Homo sapiens: one gene and its partner. The protein of the gene in region 1 interacts with the protein of each later gene in a biochemical or structural test. Each region holds a gene or a part of one and is shown on either strand. Other genes may lie near its edges.

Evidence for each region.
Region 2: the proteins of SPARC (region 1) and COL5A1 form a complex in vitro, tested with the Homo sapiens proteins (one study listed by BioGRID).

What each region holds. Positions count from the first base shown.
Region 1 is NC_000005.10:151,676,916-151,684,719, forward strand, and holds part of SPARC (SPARC isoform 1 precursor), read right to left. Parts: intron 2,842-7,804; exon of another isoform or gene 2,741-2,841; intron 2,422-2,740; exon of another isoform or gene 2,305-2,421; intron 133-2,304; exon of another isoform or gene 30-132; intron 1-29.
Region 2 is NC_000009.12:134,644,803-134,651,802, forward strand, and holds part of COL5A1 (collagen alpha-1(V) chain isoform 1 preproprotein), read left to right. Parts: intron 1-3,251; exon of another isoform or gene 3,252-3,462; intron 3,463-3,588; exon of another isoform or gene 3,589-5,404; intron 5,405-7,000. UniProt on the Homo sapiens protein: Type V collagen is a member of group I collagen (fibrillar forming collagen). It is a minor connective tissue component of nearly ubiquitous distribution. Type V collagen binds to DNA, heparan sulfate, thrombospondin, heparin, and insulin.

The sequences.
Region 1 (7,804 bases):
GGGTGGCCACATTTTTCTCCATTCTACCCAGAAGAGACAGCACTTCTTTAGGTCCTGTACGGAAACCATCCAGATGCTTCCATGTGTTGCAGAGGGGATGTTAGCTGAGATCTAGAAAATACCTCTGTTCTGGTAACTGTTAAGGCCTCATTCTCTAAATGCCAAGCTCTAGACTCTAATACTCTCATGACTATAAGGGATTTTGGAGCAGTATCTCCTCTGAGGATTCAAAACTAAAATGCTATTCCTAACAGAGGCTCTGTGGTGGAGACATTTCATTTCTTGCACTAACTAAATGGCTTTTCATTCTCAAGTGACTTTAGAAAGTTCTTTCTTTTACTGATCTAAATGTGCCTCCCTCAAACTTTCTGATCTGTCTACCCCATCTCCCCTGCAGCCACAAAGAACAAACCTGCTCTCTCTACCCACAAATAACCTTCCATCAGGAGCAACAGTGGCCATGTCTTCCCTCTTTCTTCTCCCAAAACCTCCCTGTCAGGCTCATCATCCCTTATTTCTTCCAAGACTTCTCAACTGACCAAATGGTGGTGGGAGGTAACCCGGCATCATGGAGAAAAATACTCAGCTTGAAATTAAATGCCAGGGGGTCTTGTTCTACCACAGTAGTATCAAGTCTTTTGGTCTCTCTAGACCTTGGTTCCCCCATCTATCAATTGAAATGGGTAGACTAGGTGAACTTTGAAGTGGCAGCCTCGGTCCTTAAAATGCTCTTAAGACACCCCAAGCACATTCTGGTCTTGACACATATGGTCTCCTCTGGGATCATATGTCTTCACTTGTACTATAGCATTTGGGAAGCAGAAACAGGCAGAGGAAGAGCCCACTTCATAATGGTCCTTTCTTGGGCTTAAAGAGACACAAAACCTCACCCCCTATTGCACAGAGTGAATGAAGTAAAACTAACAGAAATGTAAAGGACCTGGGGGTTTGGTATTGCTTCACAATAACCCCAACTTCCAGAGGAGTCTAGTCTTCCCTTTTGAGGCAGCTTGTGGAATGTTCCTCCCCTCACACAGTTGTTCACTTGTTCCCCAGGCTTAAGTGGAAAAATCTCCCTTCTTGCTTCCCCTTTTGGAAGACGCAAGATAAATAACTCCTGCATGTGGCTTGGGACAAATGGAACAGAAAAGAAAACATCAAGGAAGGACTTGTCTGAGATAGTTTGAGGTTGAAGGATCAAAGTGAAATAGCAGCTAAAACAAAACAAAACAAAAAGTTACCCTGTCTGAGCTATAATGACAGGGAAGTCATGTTATTGAAGAAATAGCCCAGCTAGGACTGGAAATGTAGTAAGCTTCAGATTAGAAAGACAGGAAGACAGACATTTCCCTGAGTCTGCGTCCTTCATATGAGCAGAGTAACCGCGCTCCCCTCTGTGACCAGGGGAAGGTTTCGCTGGGCGGCTCTTCTGTCTGTCCTGCCTCCTCATCTTCCTGAATTCCTTTTCCAGCTGCACACTCACCCTCCCTGCCACCCCCATCCCTGCTGTTGCAGCCAGAAGAGAAAAATAACTCTAAGTCTTATAGTGCTGCTTCATAGTTTCTAAAGCACTGTCACATAACACTGTCTCCTAGAGCCTTCTGACAATGCTGGGAAGTAGGCAGACAGGCATGGAAGGGTTCTTAGTCCCACTGTCCTAATGGGGAATCTGAGGTTGAGAGGGAGGAAGCACTTGTCCAAAGTCATGCAACAATTCAGGCCCTCTCCAAATAGGCAAGCGTTCTCACTCATGGAGTTGGGGTGAGCCTAATAGGAATTACGCTCAGACAAGTGGGAGTGGGGGAGAAATGCAGAGAGACTGTTAAGAACAGAACGCAAAATCTTGGAATACACCTTAAAAGTTTTGGAAGAAAACTGTAAACACAAACACAAAATCTGGGTCCTGCCCAGCACCCGGTGCTACACCACCAGTCCAAGAGCACTTTTCCCCCAGATGATGAGATGGGAGGGAAGGGAAGCGGCTGAACTATTCCAGATGCACAGCCATCTCCCTGCCTCCCCACGAGATACCTCTCTGAGGCTCTCTAAACTACCACTGACCAAAGAGCCCTGTGTCCATCCTGCAAAGCTAATGGAGTATAACAGTCACCCCAGCAAGGTCAGAACACAGTATCAAACCCCAGCATTCAGAACTCACAGCTGTGATCCTTTGCCAATCAAACCTAGGTGTAGCGTGCCTGGCGAAAATTTAAATTCCCTTCATATAAATGACCAATATTAAACAAAAACTCCCTCCTTTGTATTTCTTTAGTCTGTGATGATGCATACATTTATCATTTTCAGGGTGTTTTCATAATCCAGCACCCCACTGGGGGCTCAAGTCACATATTTCTGCCCAATAGTACAGATGAGAAGACCAAGGCCTAGAGGAAAGGAGAAAACTGCCAACGGCTAACAGCAGTGAGTGAGTGACTGGGTGGCAGGGCTAGGGTGAGAACCCGTGCAACCCTACCCCACCACTGGTATGTCTCTACCTCTGCACACTATTTCCCTTGGCAGCTACCCGCTCCCAGGTGGTCACCTGAATGGGGCTCAGTTGGGCCTTGAACTGGCCTGAGTTCCTGGGAAGGAAAATGCCCAGGGCCAGGGGAGGAAGAGAAGGCATATTTCCCTTGGCATGGTGGCCATCAAATGCAGACAGTTTTAGCCCCCTCCCAGCCGCCACTGCCTCCTGTTCCGTACATCGAGTCCCTTCCTTTTGCCTTTATTTGCTCTGGAGACTGCTGAAAACCCGTCCTTGGCTGCCAGCAGGACCTGAAGCTGAGGTCACTTCTCTCTCTGGAAAGACTCTGAGGATGGAAAAGTACAGCCAGCCCCCAGGTTTGTCCCTCAAAACATAAAGGGCCTCCTTTGGGCTCTCCTTGGACGTTAAAAAGCCACTGAACGTTAGAACAGGGGGGATACCTCAGAATCATAGAATCATGGACTGTGGGTCTCAGAATGATAGACTTAGGATGTGAAGCAAAGAAACTGAGTTGCCATCATTAAATCTTATTTGGGTGGAAAGAACTTATGGAGTAATGCAACCCAACAGGACTTCCCAAGATGATGAACACATTCTATATCTACGTGGTCCACTATGATAGCTACTGGTTACAAGTGGTTACTGAATGCTTGAAATGTTGCCAGTGCAAATGAAGAACTGAGTTTTAAATTGTATTTCATTTTAACCAATTTTTTTATTTAAAAATTTTATGCAAAAGGACTGAGGCCAATCCAAAATATCTTACTTAACCCATACCTTGTTGAAATACTGCAATAGAGAATAGTGGAAAACATCTTTTTTTTTTTTTTTTTTTTTTTTTTTTGAGACACGGTCTCCCTCTGTCACCCAGACTGGAGTGTGGTTGGCGCAATCTCAGCTCACTGCAACCTCTGCCTCCTGGGCTCAAGTGATTCTCCCATCTCAGCCTCCCGAGTAGCTGAGATCACAGGCACTTGTGACTACACCCAGCGAATTTTTCTTTTCTTTTCTTTTTTGTAGAGATGGGGCTTCATTATGTTGCCCAGGCTGGTCTCGAACTCCTGACCTCAAGCCATCCGCCCGCCTCAGCCTCCCAAAGAGGTGGGATTATAGGCGTGAGCCACCATGCCCATCTATTTTAATCAACTTAAATCTAAATAGCCACATGTGGCTAGTGGCTACCATGGTAGACAGAGTGATAATAAACTATGAGGCAGTATAGCATAAAGGTAAGCTCATAGGCTCTGGAGCCAGAATATACAGGTTCAAATCCTGGCTCACCACTTAGTAATTGTATGACCTTTAGAAATCAACTTTACCTCTTGGGGCCTCAATTTGTTCCCCAATGTGTAAAATGGAAACAATAACATACCAATCTTTAAAGGCTCATGGGTGATTTACACAAGAGAATCCAAATAAAGAGGTAAGCAATGTTGTCGTTGGGAAGAGCATCTTATAAAGTCCGAGGTTCCCAGAATCTCCATCCCCCGAAAGAATTCAGTGCAAAATTCCAGTGCTTTATAAGCCCAGGGAGAAAGGGGTGTTTGGGTGGAACAAAGGACATATTGCCCCTGTTGGTCTGGGTAAGTCCAGCCTCCAGAGGATACAGTGACGAAGACCAGGCCCAGGGCTGGCCTCTTACTTGGGCAGCTGATACCAGCCAAGCATCTCACTCTCACTATTTGGCTTGGAAACAAGGGCTCCAAAAACACATGTTGCTGGTAAACAAGCCCAAAGAGAGGAAAACAAGCCTAGAGGCTAATAAAGGAAGCCAAGAGCCAGGCCCTCCAGGGAGTTGGGACTCGGAAGGAGCCTGGGGTCTGCTGACATGGGGACCGAGCCAGGCAGGCCAGAGAGGTGGCCACATGCAGCTACAATGGCACTCCTGCTCACACCCCTGGGAGCAGACACAGCAGCTCAGAGGTGGCCTCATGACGTGGAAGTCAGGAGAGCTGAGAGCAAGTCAGCATGTCTCCCAGCTCACTGTGCGAATTCAGGGGAGTCTCCTCTGCTCTCCAGAACTAACACCCCCAGCTTGTCTGTATAAGGTCAGTGCTCAAAATTATGTAAGCCAGAAAATCCTTTATTTCAATGAAGTCTTCTGCAGAGTCCGATATTTCAAACAGCTGAAATCTTTTAGCATGTACTGAACCATGTGAATGAGTATTATCTAGTTAATCAATAAGTGTGAAATTAAAAAACAAGAGCAGGCTGGGCGCAATGGCTCACGCCTGTAATCCCAGCACTTTGGGAGGCCAAGGAGGGTAGATCACCTGAGGTCAGCAGTTCGAGACCAGCCTGGCCAACATGATGAAACCCCGTCTCTACTAAAAATACAAAAAATTAGCCGGGCATGGTGGCGGGCGCCTAAAATCCCAGCAACTCGGGAGGCTGAGGCAGGAGAGTCACTTGAACCTGGGAGGCAGAGGTTGCAGTGAGCCAAGATTGTGCCATTGCACTCTCGCCTGGGCAACAAGAGTGAAACTCCCTCTCAAAAAAATCCACAAAAAAGAAAAGCAGATAAAAGTGGAGTGGAGCTGAGGAGTGGGAGTCCTACACACAGGGACATTCCCTAAGATACCTTGGAACATCTGTACTTTCTCCTAGGAACACAATATGGAACCCTTAGGCAAGGTGGTCCTTTAGGTTCTTTTCAGCTCTGATTTTCCGGATCAACTTGGGCAGAAGCTTTTTAGAGCCTTACCTCTCTCCACTTGCCCCTTGACTCCCTGCTTCCACTTCTATTTCCTGCTGGAAGGAAAGACGCTAAAGGAAACTTTTAAGGTGTGGTAGCTAAAACTTAGGACTGGAGAGCTTCTGGGGCAACTCAGAGGTGGCTCCAGAGTTTGGGGCTGGAATCAGCCCGAGATTCCATAAAGACATCTGAGATGCCACATTTCACTGTGGCTAGCAGAGGCTGGGGTGGAGCTTCAGGCTTCATCCTTGGCTCCCTCTAGGGCACCGCTGCTGCATTGTGGTGACCACAAATGAAAGGATGAGAAATAACATCAAAGTGTCCAGGCTATTGCATCTGGAAAAGCCTCCGAGATCCCAAAGATAGCAAATATGTGGCATATGTGACAAACACGTGGCCTCCACCTACCCCTCCTGCACATGTGGCAGACATTACTAATCAATCGCTTGACCTCTTCTCCTAAAGCTTAGAGAGTCATCAGAATCCTGAACACAGTTCTTCTGACAGCCACTACCGATGAATTAGTGATGTTGTCAGGCCACATGAAACCTCTGTGTGCTGCCTCTTATTGTAGAGGTAGAGAAATTGAGGCTTAGAGAAGGAAAATACCTCACTGGAGGTCACACGGCAAGCTGGTGTCTAAGCCAAATTTCCAGATGTTCAAAAACATCCAGATGTTTGCTTTGCTTTTTTTATCTGATAGGTCTGAAATCCTAATGCCATGACTAACATCAAGATGACCCAGAGTGATCCCCAGATGAGAGAAGTTAATACCAAGTTTCTGAAAGAAACCAGCTCTGACAACAATTGTTGTCTATGTTCATGTTTTCCTTGCAGACATAAAGTTCTATAGCTTGATGGGTGAGAGCAGAGATGATTTCCTGTCTAAGCTGCCAGTTGAGGAGAGGCTGTTTCTCTAAATAATTCCGTCAAGTCACTACTTGCTGGCCCTGGCCCTGCACAGCCCAGCTGTCCCTGGGTTCAGGATTGAGGTTGGGAGGGAGGGAGGGAGGGAGGGAGGCATCAGGGTCTGTGCTGTAGAAACAAGGTCCTCAGGGTTGCTGAAAGCTCAAGGCTGGTTTTCCCTTCTCTCCTTTGAAACTGACGTTTGGGAGGGAGCCAGCTAGAAGCAAGGGAGCAGCCGCCTACAGGCACATCATGCAGGGCCTTTGGGCCTAATGACAAAGCCACGTGGGCTGGAATAGGCATTGCAGGCCAGCCAACGGGAGAGACAAAGTGCTGCTCACCACTTAGTATCCATGGGGCTTGTGTGCATAAGTGTGTTTCCAAACTGAACAAATGGGGATTGGGGGGGAAGGCAAGGTGAATATCAAAATGGCTCCAAACACGTGGAAGTTTGGCTCAGACGCCAGCTTGCTATGTGACCTCCAGTGAGTTATTTTCTCTTCCTGAGCCTCAGTTTCTCTCTCTCTGAGACATAGAGGTGGTTGGTGATAAATGTAGGTTACACGTCTGTCTCATTGTCATGATCCATATTATGTTTGACTGTGCATATGTTTGACTGTGCACATCCATCCATGTGTGGCTGCAAGTGGCGGTGTGTGTTTGTATACCTGATGGCATGTCTGTGTAAGTTACATACAGCCTGACTTAGCATCTGTCTGTTTCAGCCTGTAATAGGCGAGGGTCAGAATTTTCACATTCATTGAGATATATTCCTGGAACTTGTCTGTAAATCATTGTCATCCAGGAAGAGGTGTGTGAGTGAATGACTTTCTGTGTCTGCTCCTGTAATGAGGCACTTATTTTTAGCTGAGCCAGTGGGTGCCTGTTGATGAAATCGATGTTTATACTCTTCATCCCTATGGGTTTGTACCTGTCCCTGTTTATCTCTGCATATTTATCTACCTACATAAACAACTTCAAAAGCCAAATATTCTACTGTTTACCTCACATCCTCAGCTCTTTCCTTTCCTTCACCATTCTTTCTTATTTATAGCTTGTTTTCAGCAAGGAAAGCTGCTCTCATGAATAGCAAACCCCAGCCACACTGTTGATTGACAAATCTCTACAGATGGATAAGGATTACAGCATGATGGTTATGCAACTCAAGATCCCCTAGCCCATCTTTTCTTGTTTTCTTTTCAACTGGGGGTGCAGTAAGGCGGTGTTAAAAATGCAGGCAAGCTATTCCTTTGAATAAAAGCGGTATCTGGGATTTAGGTTTATAGGACTTCAGAGTTAGAAGGGTGCCTGGGAAATCATCTAGCTTAGAAACTCTATTTAACAGTTTGGGAAACTGCAGCCTCAAGAGAGGAAGTGTCTTTCCCAATGTCAGGCACTGGGAGTTAGAACACACTTTTTTTTTTTTTTTTCACCCTTGGCCAATGCTTTTCCTACATAGAGGGCACAACAGTCTTGGGAAATACACAAGAAGTTCCCCAAATCAAAATGAAGATAAACAATATTATGATTTTAAAATTTTTCCTGTCAGTACTTCTAGTAAAGGAAAGTTCTATACAAACCCCAAGATGATGGAGCTGCCAGGAAAAAAAAAAAAAAAAAAAGCTGAGAATGATTTCACTAGGTCTTTGGATGCCTTTAATCCATCAGTTCTAAAACCCTTTGCATTATGAGGGAATGCCACAATTCGCAAAGTGCTT
Region 2 (7,000 bases), on another chromosome or scaffold:
AGGTCATCTCCTCTACACGCCATTGGTTGACTCCAGTCACGTGATTGCTTTTTGCAATAATTTGTGGGGAGAGTCGGCCAAGTTTTGTGAGACTTGACAGGTATCAAATGGTTAAATTTCCTCTGACTCAATCAAGTTGGCTGGAAAGACATCCTTTTCCATCCTCTGCCCCCTCCCTCCCTCTCCCCATAAAAGAGCAGTGAGTGGGAGGAGCTCAGAAGCCCCAAGAATTCCCCAAGCCCTCTCCCTGCTGTGGTCCAGATTTGCCGGAGGGGTTGGAGTTTTGGTTGCTACCCAGGGCTGTGCCCACCCAGCAGTGCGGCAGCCCCAGGCAGGGGCGTGCTCCCAGTGCCAGGCTCACAGTGGTTTCTCCAGTGATGTTACTCCTGGGCTGCTCCTGCGGGGCTGGCCAGAGCCTGCTCTTCACCCCGCCCTGCAGATATTTCTGGACTCCCCACCGCCACGCCTCAGCCGAACACAGCTGGTGCTGCCCGTCCCGCCCTGCCTTCTCGCTGCCTGGCCTGTCTGCCTGCCCTGCCTCCTCCCTGGACCGCCCCATCCCACCTCCTGGGAGATAGACCTTGATAGGTGGAGTAGGGGCTGTGCAGAGCAGTGAGCTGCCCCGCTGGAGGGCGAGGATGAGTCCCCAACACTTCCCGAGGGCACCCACATAGGAGCCTGAGCCAAGCTGCATCTGGAACAGTGCAGGACCTGTCCCTGCTCGGTCACGTGACGTGGCTCTGGGAATGGCCTTGGGAGACAATCACACATGGGAATGGAGGGGCTGGCACTTGCCTGGCCTGTGGTGAGCATCAGCTGCACCATCTCACTGCACCCTCACCCGGGCCTGAGAAGGGACAGAGCCTAGGAGTCAGGGGGCAGGGATGCCAGGCAGATGTCTTCCATTCCTGCTGTGGGGCCCTAAGCCAGCAACGGCCCTTCGCCTGGCATGGTCACTCTTTGACTTGTCACAGTTCCCTCTTCTCACTTCCCATCGGTTTATCAGCTCTCCCCGGGGAGAAGGCCAGGGCCCTGAGCTATAGTCCTGGCCTGGGGGCCCAGTCCAAACAGGGTCCTGGGAGCAGAGCCATTCCATTTGGCCAACACAGCTTTTAAGTTCCTTTCTTTCTCCTTCCCCCTCCATCCTTCCCTCCTTCCTTCTTTCCTCCCTCTCTTCCTCCCTCCCTCTCTCCCATCCCCTTCCTTCCTTCCCTTTGTCCCTCCATCCCTTCTCTTTTTACTCCAGTGCCTTCAAGAGGGATGCAGCAGCCACAGTCTCCACCACTTCCCAGGCCTCTCTGCACATCAGCATAACCTGCCTGGACCCTGAAGGCTTTTGCCTTTTCACCTGGGTCGGGCCTATCTTGGGGAGACCGAGGCAAATGGGATGGGACCCCTCGTTTCCTTCCAGGAGCTCACAGTCTGACAGGCAGACCATTGTGAATTTTACTCAGGGCCCTCCATGGGATGTGCTGGGTCTTGCATCCGACAGTCTGGGAGGGTTAATTGCACTGGGGAGAGCTGGGGAGCTTCCTGGAGGAGGTGATGTGAAACTGGCCTTCCCTCCTTCTCTTCTCCTTCCTTTTATTGCAGAAATGACCCTCCTTCGTGGGGTCCTCCTCCACCTCTGGCTTTAATCTTGCTCTCTTCCCTCCTTCTGACAGGACATTCCACACCGTGTCCCAGAGCTCTCCTGGGCGGCTCCCTTGGCTGGAAAGCCCCTCATTCACGGGCTTGGCAGGTGCTCCCAGTATCTGTTTGCCAGGAGAATACAAGTGCCCCTAAGGGAAGTGGCAGATCCTGGCAGCTTCCTTAACCCTTTCTCTGCCCCCGTTCCTCCTGTTTCCCTTTGACGAGCCCTGCTGGCCTGGCACAGTGAGCCCAGTCTGCACAGCTCTGCAGACAGCTCCACAGCTGTGGATTAGGATGTGGGGGCCTCTGGGGGTGATTTTGGGTACCTGTGCTGGGTGACAGGTGGTCGGATGTGGGAGGGGACATTCCTTGGCAATCAGATTACTGAACTCCAGGCCAGCAAGGTCGGTGTGAGGCTGGAGCTGAGTTTCCCTGCCTCTGAGGGGCTGTCGGATGGGCTGGGCGAGGACAAGTCACTGCACCTCAGCTTCCCCTCGTGAACATGGGGAGAACCACATTTCTTGCTTTGAGGCATGGTTGTGAAGATCGATTGAGGCCACACCTGTGAGAAGCTTTGCAGGCTGCCTGACCTGTACTCGGCACTGGCTGTGTGGGGACGTTACCATCGCCCCCATCTTCAGTGGTGGTTTTGCAGGAGGAAAGAGCAGTGTTCCCACAGCCCTCTTTAGCTCCCAGAAGCACAGGCGAGGGAGGTGTGCCTGTGTGGGGCCTGGCCCTGCTGAGACCCCTGGGGCTCTGCTGTTGCCCGCTTAGCCGGTCTCTGCTGCCCCTTTGCCTTCCTTGGCCTCGGTTCTTTGCTTTCCCACGGAACCTCATGGGGTCATTGTCCAGGCCGTGGGGTGTGATGCATGTGAAAAGCTTTAGAAGCCAATTCCAGGGTTTGCACTCATGTGTGCGTTTGTGTGTATGTGTGTCATGTGTGCGTGTGTGTGTGTGTGTGTCAGGCCGTGTGCACGTGTGGACAATGTGTATATCTCCCCGCGATCTGCCTGCACACATGTGTTTGTGGGTATACATGTGTGTTTGAGTGTGCACGCATGCGCATCCTTGCACATGTACCTGCGTTCACATGGGTGTCCCTGGCTGACTCCACGTGCAGGGCCTGGTGTGTTTGAGGAGCTCGTGGCAGGGCGACGTTTCTCTCCTTACCGTGACCCGGCCCCAGCTGGACGGGAGAGGAGGAGATGGCACGTGGAACCTGCCGGTTGAGCGTGAGGCTGTGGGTTCTGCCGCAGGGCAAGCCGGGTCCAGCTGGATCCGACAATTTCATGTCTTTTTAAACTCCCGGGAGGGCGATGTTACATTATGGCTCCCGCTTCTCCTCTATTTACATTCTCCCATATAATTGACTCGTCTGCTCTCTCTCAGTGCTTTGCCAAGTGTCGGTTTTAAAGTTTCTGGCCTGGCTGGTGGATGTGCCTCGATCCTGCAGGCGGAGCCCACAGCGGCCCTTGTGGTGGTTACTACTGAGTGTCAATTTGATTGGATTGAAGGATACAAGTATTAATCCTGCGTGTGTCTATGAGAGTGTTGCCAAAGGAGATTAACATTTGAATCAGTGGGCTGGGGAAGGCAGACCCACCGTTAATCGGGAGGGCACAATCTAATCAGCCGCTAGCAGGTGTAGAGCAGGCAGAAAAACATGAAGAGACGAGACTGGCCCAGCCTCCCAGCCTACATCTTTCTCCTGTGCTGGACGCTTCCTGCCCTCGAACATCGGACTCCAAGTTCTTCAGGTTTGGGACTCGGACTTGCTCTCCTTGCTGCTCAGCTTGCAGACAGCCTATTGTGGTGGGACCTTGTGATTGTGTAAGTCAGTACTTAATAAACTCCTATATATATATATATAATATATATATATATATTTCTATTATTTCTATTCCTATTAGTTCTGTCCCTCTAAGGGAACCCTGACTAATACAGCTCTGCTCATAGGCAGGACTGCAGGACTGCAGCCACCAGGACATGGCATAGGGACCAGGGTGGCCTGCTGGCAAAGGACAGGCAGCCGGCAAGACTCCTGGATTCCTATCCTGGCTCCAGTGTCTACCAGCAGTGCATTTTCCCACCCTGTGCCTCACTTTCCCCATCTGTAAGAAGGGGGTGGTGACTGTAACTACAGTAGGGTTTTAGTGATGTCTAATGTATTACTCATATAAAGCACAGAGTAAGACCCCATTACTGCCCTTGCCACCAGGGGCCCCAGTGCAGCAGGAGGCTGTGAGGTGGTTTGGGGCCCTCTACTCGCTGGCCTGTGCGTGCTCCCTTGCCATCCTGTGTGGTGTCACACTGCTGCTTCCCTCACTGGGTACGCAGGAGAAAAGGTAAGGCAGTAAGCACCAGTGGTCAGTTCAGCGGATCGCTCGCTGCTCGCTGCCTCTGAGGCTCTGAGCCTGAGCCAGGAAGGTGCATCCTTGGGCAGTCGCGGGCCAGGCCAAGTTCAGCCCGCAGAGTGGCCCTCCCCTGCCTCCTCTGGCCACTTGCTCTTTACAAGGAACGGAGGTCCAGGAGGTGGATGGACCTGTGCACCTCCCAGCTGCAGGCCTCTGTTCTGTCTCTGTGATGTGATGGCGGTGAGTGGTGGCTGATCACTGAAAGGAGGTGTTCCAGGCAGGGGTGGGTGAAGTTGGTGCGGGCGGGGTGTGGGGGGGGCTTTGCCATCTCAGATGTTGTTTTTGTGCCAGCCCAGCCCCAGGCCACTGGAGAGAAGACCGTGGAATGAATGAATTGGTGGCTGGATGCTCAGTGGAGGGGTGCGGGTCACTTTGAGTTATCCATGTCAGATAGTCCGAGCCGTCACACCCTCAGCTTCCTATCAGCAGAGGAGTTTTTCTGGAGGAATCTCAAACTAGGTAATAACCTCATATTAGCAGTAAATGTCACCATCCTTTGATGACTCAGACCTAAGAAATGGAACCACAGCCTGACCCACTTTTCTCAAAATTTAATTACTCAGAGCTCTGGGGACATGGGCTCAGCCTATTTGCCGAGATGTCTCTGCCCATGAAATGGAAGCTTCCTTTATTTTCTGTTTCCTAGACCCGTGTTCTTGTAGGGAAATTAGCTCTTCTGTCCTTTTCTTCCTTGCCAGGACCTCGGCAATAGGGTTTCTGGTGGCCTCTTTTTTTTCTGTAAATAAATGCCACAAAATGACATAAAAACAGTGTGGTGATTCCTCAAGGATCTAGAACCAGAAATACCATTTGACCTGGTGATCCCATTACTGGGTATATACCCAAAGGATTATAAATCATCCTACTATAAAGAGAAATGCACACGTATGTTTATTGCGGCACTGTTCACAATAGCAAAGACTTGCAACCAACCCAAATGCCCATCAATGATAGATTGGATAAAGAAAATATGGCACATATACATCATGGAATACTATGCAGCCATAAAAAAAGGATAGTTCATGTCCTTTGCAGGGACATGGATGAAGCTGGAAATCATCATTCTCAGCAAACTAACACAAGAACAGAAAACCACAAACACCACATGTTCTCACTCATAAGTGGGAGTTGAACAATGAGAACACACGGACACAGGGAGGGGAACATCATGCACCAGGGCCTGTTGGGGGGTGGGGGGCTAGGGGAGGGAGAGCATTAGGAGAAATACCTAATGTAGATGACAGGTTAATGGGTGCAGCAAACCACCATGGCATGTGTATACCTGTGTAACAAACCTGTGCGTTCTGTACATGTATCCCAGAACTTAAAGTATAATAAAAAAAATTTTTTTAAATGTGTGTATGTAGCAGGAGTGACTTAAGTTGAAAAACTCTGACCCTTGCATTGGGAAACAGTGATCTCCCAGTGAGAACACATGAGCATCGTAACCGTCTTCCATTGGAAGCGACCGTCTTCCATTCTGCTGGCGGGTGGCCTGGGGGACCAGCACTCTTTCCCGTGTGTGGGTACAGAGGGAACAGATGGGGTCCATATGCAAAGACATTGGGTGTGTCAGCAGGTTTGCTTGGCAGCATTTATGGACCCCTAACATGAGACGGACCTGTGCGGGGGGCACAGGTGAGCGATAGGCGAGCCGTCTGTGCCCTACTGGGTCTTCCGCTGCGGCGGGGGAGTCAGCCATCTGAACAGGTGGTTTTACCCAGTGAGGTGCAGTAGAAGTGGGAGTAGGGTGTGGCCAAGGCCAGTCTAGGGAGGCACCTGCCAGCCCCATGGGGCGGTGGCCAGTCAGAGACCAGCCTGCTTCTCCAGGGCCAGCCCTTTGGGATGCATGCGCCTGAAGGCAGGCTCCCATTGGTGGATGCAGAGGGCACGTTCCCGTGCATGTTCTTCCTCTGGCTCTTGTTCATATTTTCATATTTACACTGGACCCTGCTCTGAGGGTGCTCCCGTCAGCACCTGTGATCCTCAAACCCGCCCTTCGTGCCAGGTGGGATCGGCCCATTCTGCAGATGTGCCAGTCTAGCTCCTTGAGTCCAGCTGGCACAAGGGGATGAAAACCACCCTCCACGTCCCAGTGGTCACACGGCCTGCATGTTGGTGCAGGTCCGTACAGTCACATGCATGGACGCAAGCAGCCTCTGTCCATTCTCAAGGCCAGGTGAGGGCGGCGTGGCTCCGCTCCCTCCTGTTTGTTTGCTGGCGCCAGCCTCCATGGCAGCTGGGTCCCAGTGCTTCAGAAGGGGAGCCATGGCCCCAGGCAACAGTGCGTACCTGAAGCCTCTGCCTCGGTTTCTTCTTCTTCCTTTCAGATGCATAAAAATGCACATCAAGCCTGGGCACCATCTGGTGGCCTCTTTATTTTTTAAATAAATGCCATAAAATGACATAAAAACAGTGTGGCGATTCCTCCAGGATCTAGAACCAGAAACACCATTTGACCCAACAATACCATTACTGGGCACCACCTCTACAGAAATTTCAGAAACAATTAGCCAGGTGTGGTGGTTCGTGCTTGTGGTCCCAGCTACTTGAGAGGCTGAGGTGGGAGGATCACTTGAGCCAGGGAGGCTGAGGCTGCAGTGAGCTGTGTTTGTGCCACTGCACTGTAGCCTGGGTGACAGAGTGAGACCCTGTCTAAAAAAAAATGAAAATAAAAATAAAAATGTACACCAGAGAGCACGGTGGTCTCAGCTTTTCCAGCTGTAGTTTCGTCTTTCTTCTGGAGGACAGAGGCCCAGCCATCTGCATCCTCAGCACACAATTAGGTCAGTCACTGGGGCCTGTTGTGGGGGTGACAGGCAAGCCTGGGTGTGGGGAGAGCCGGCCCGTTGCCCATGGGCTCTGCACAGTGGGTGGGTGCAGGTGCGATGACAGGCGCGGGACAGAGGGGCCCCTGGGGGGACTTTTCTCGGGTCCTCTGCCTTCCCACCACT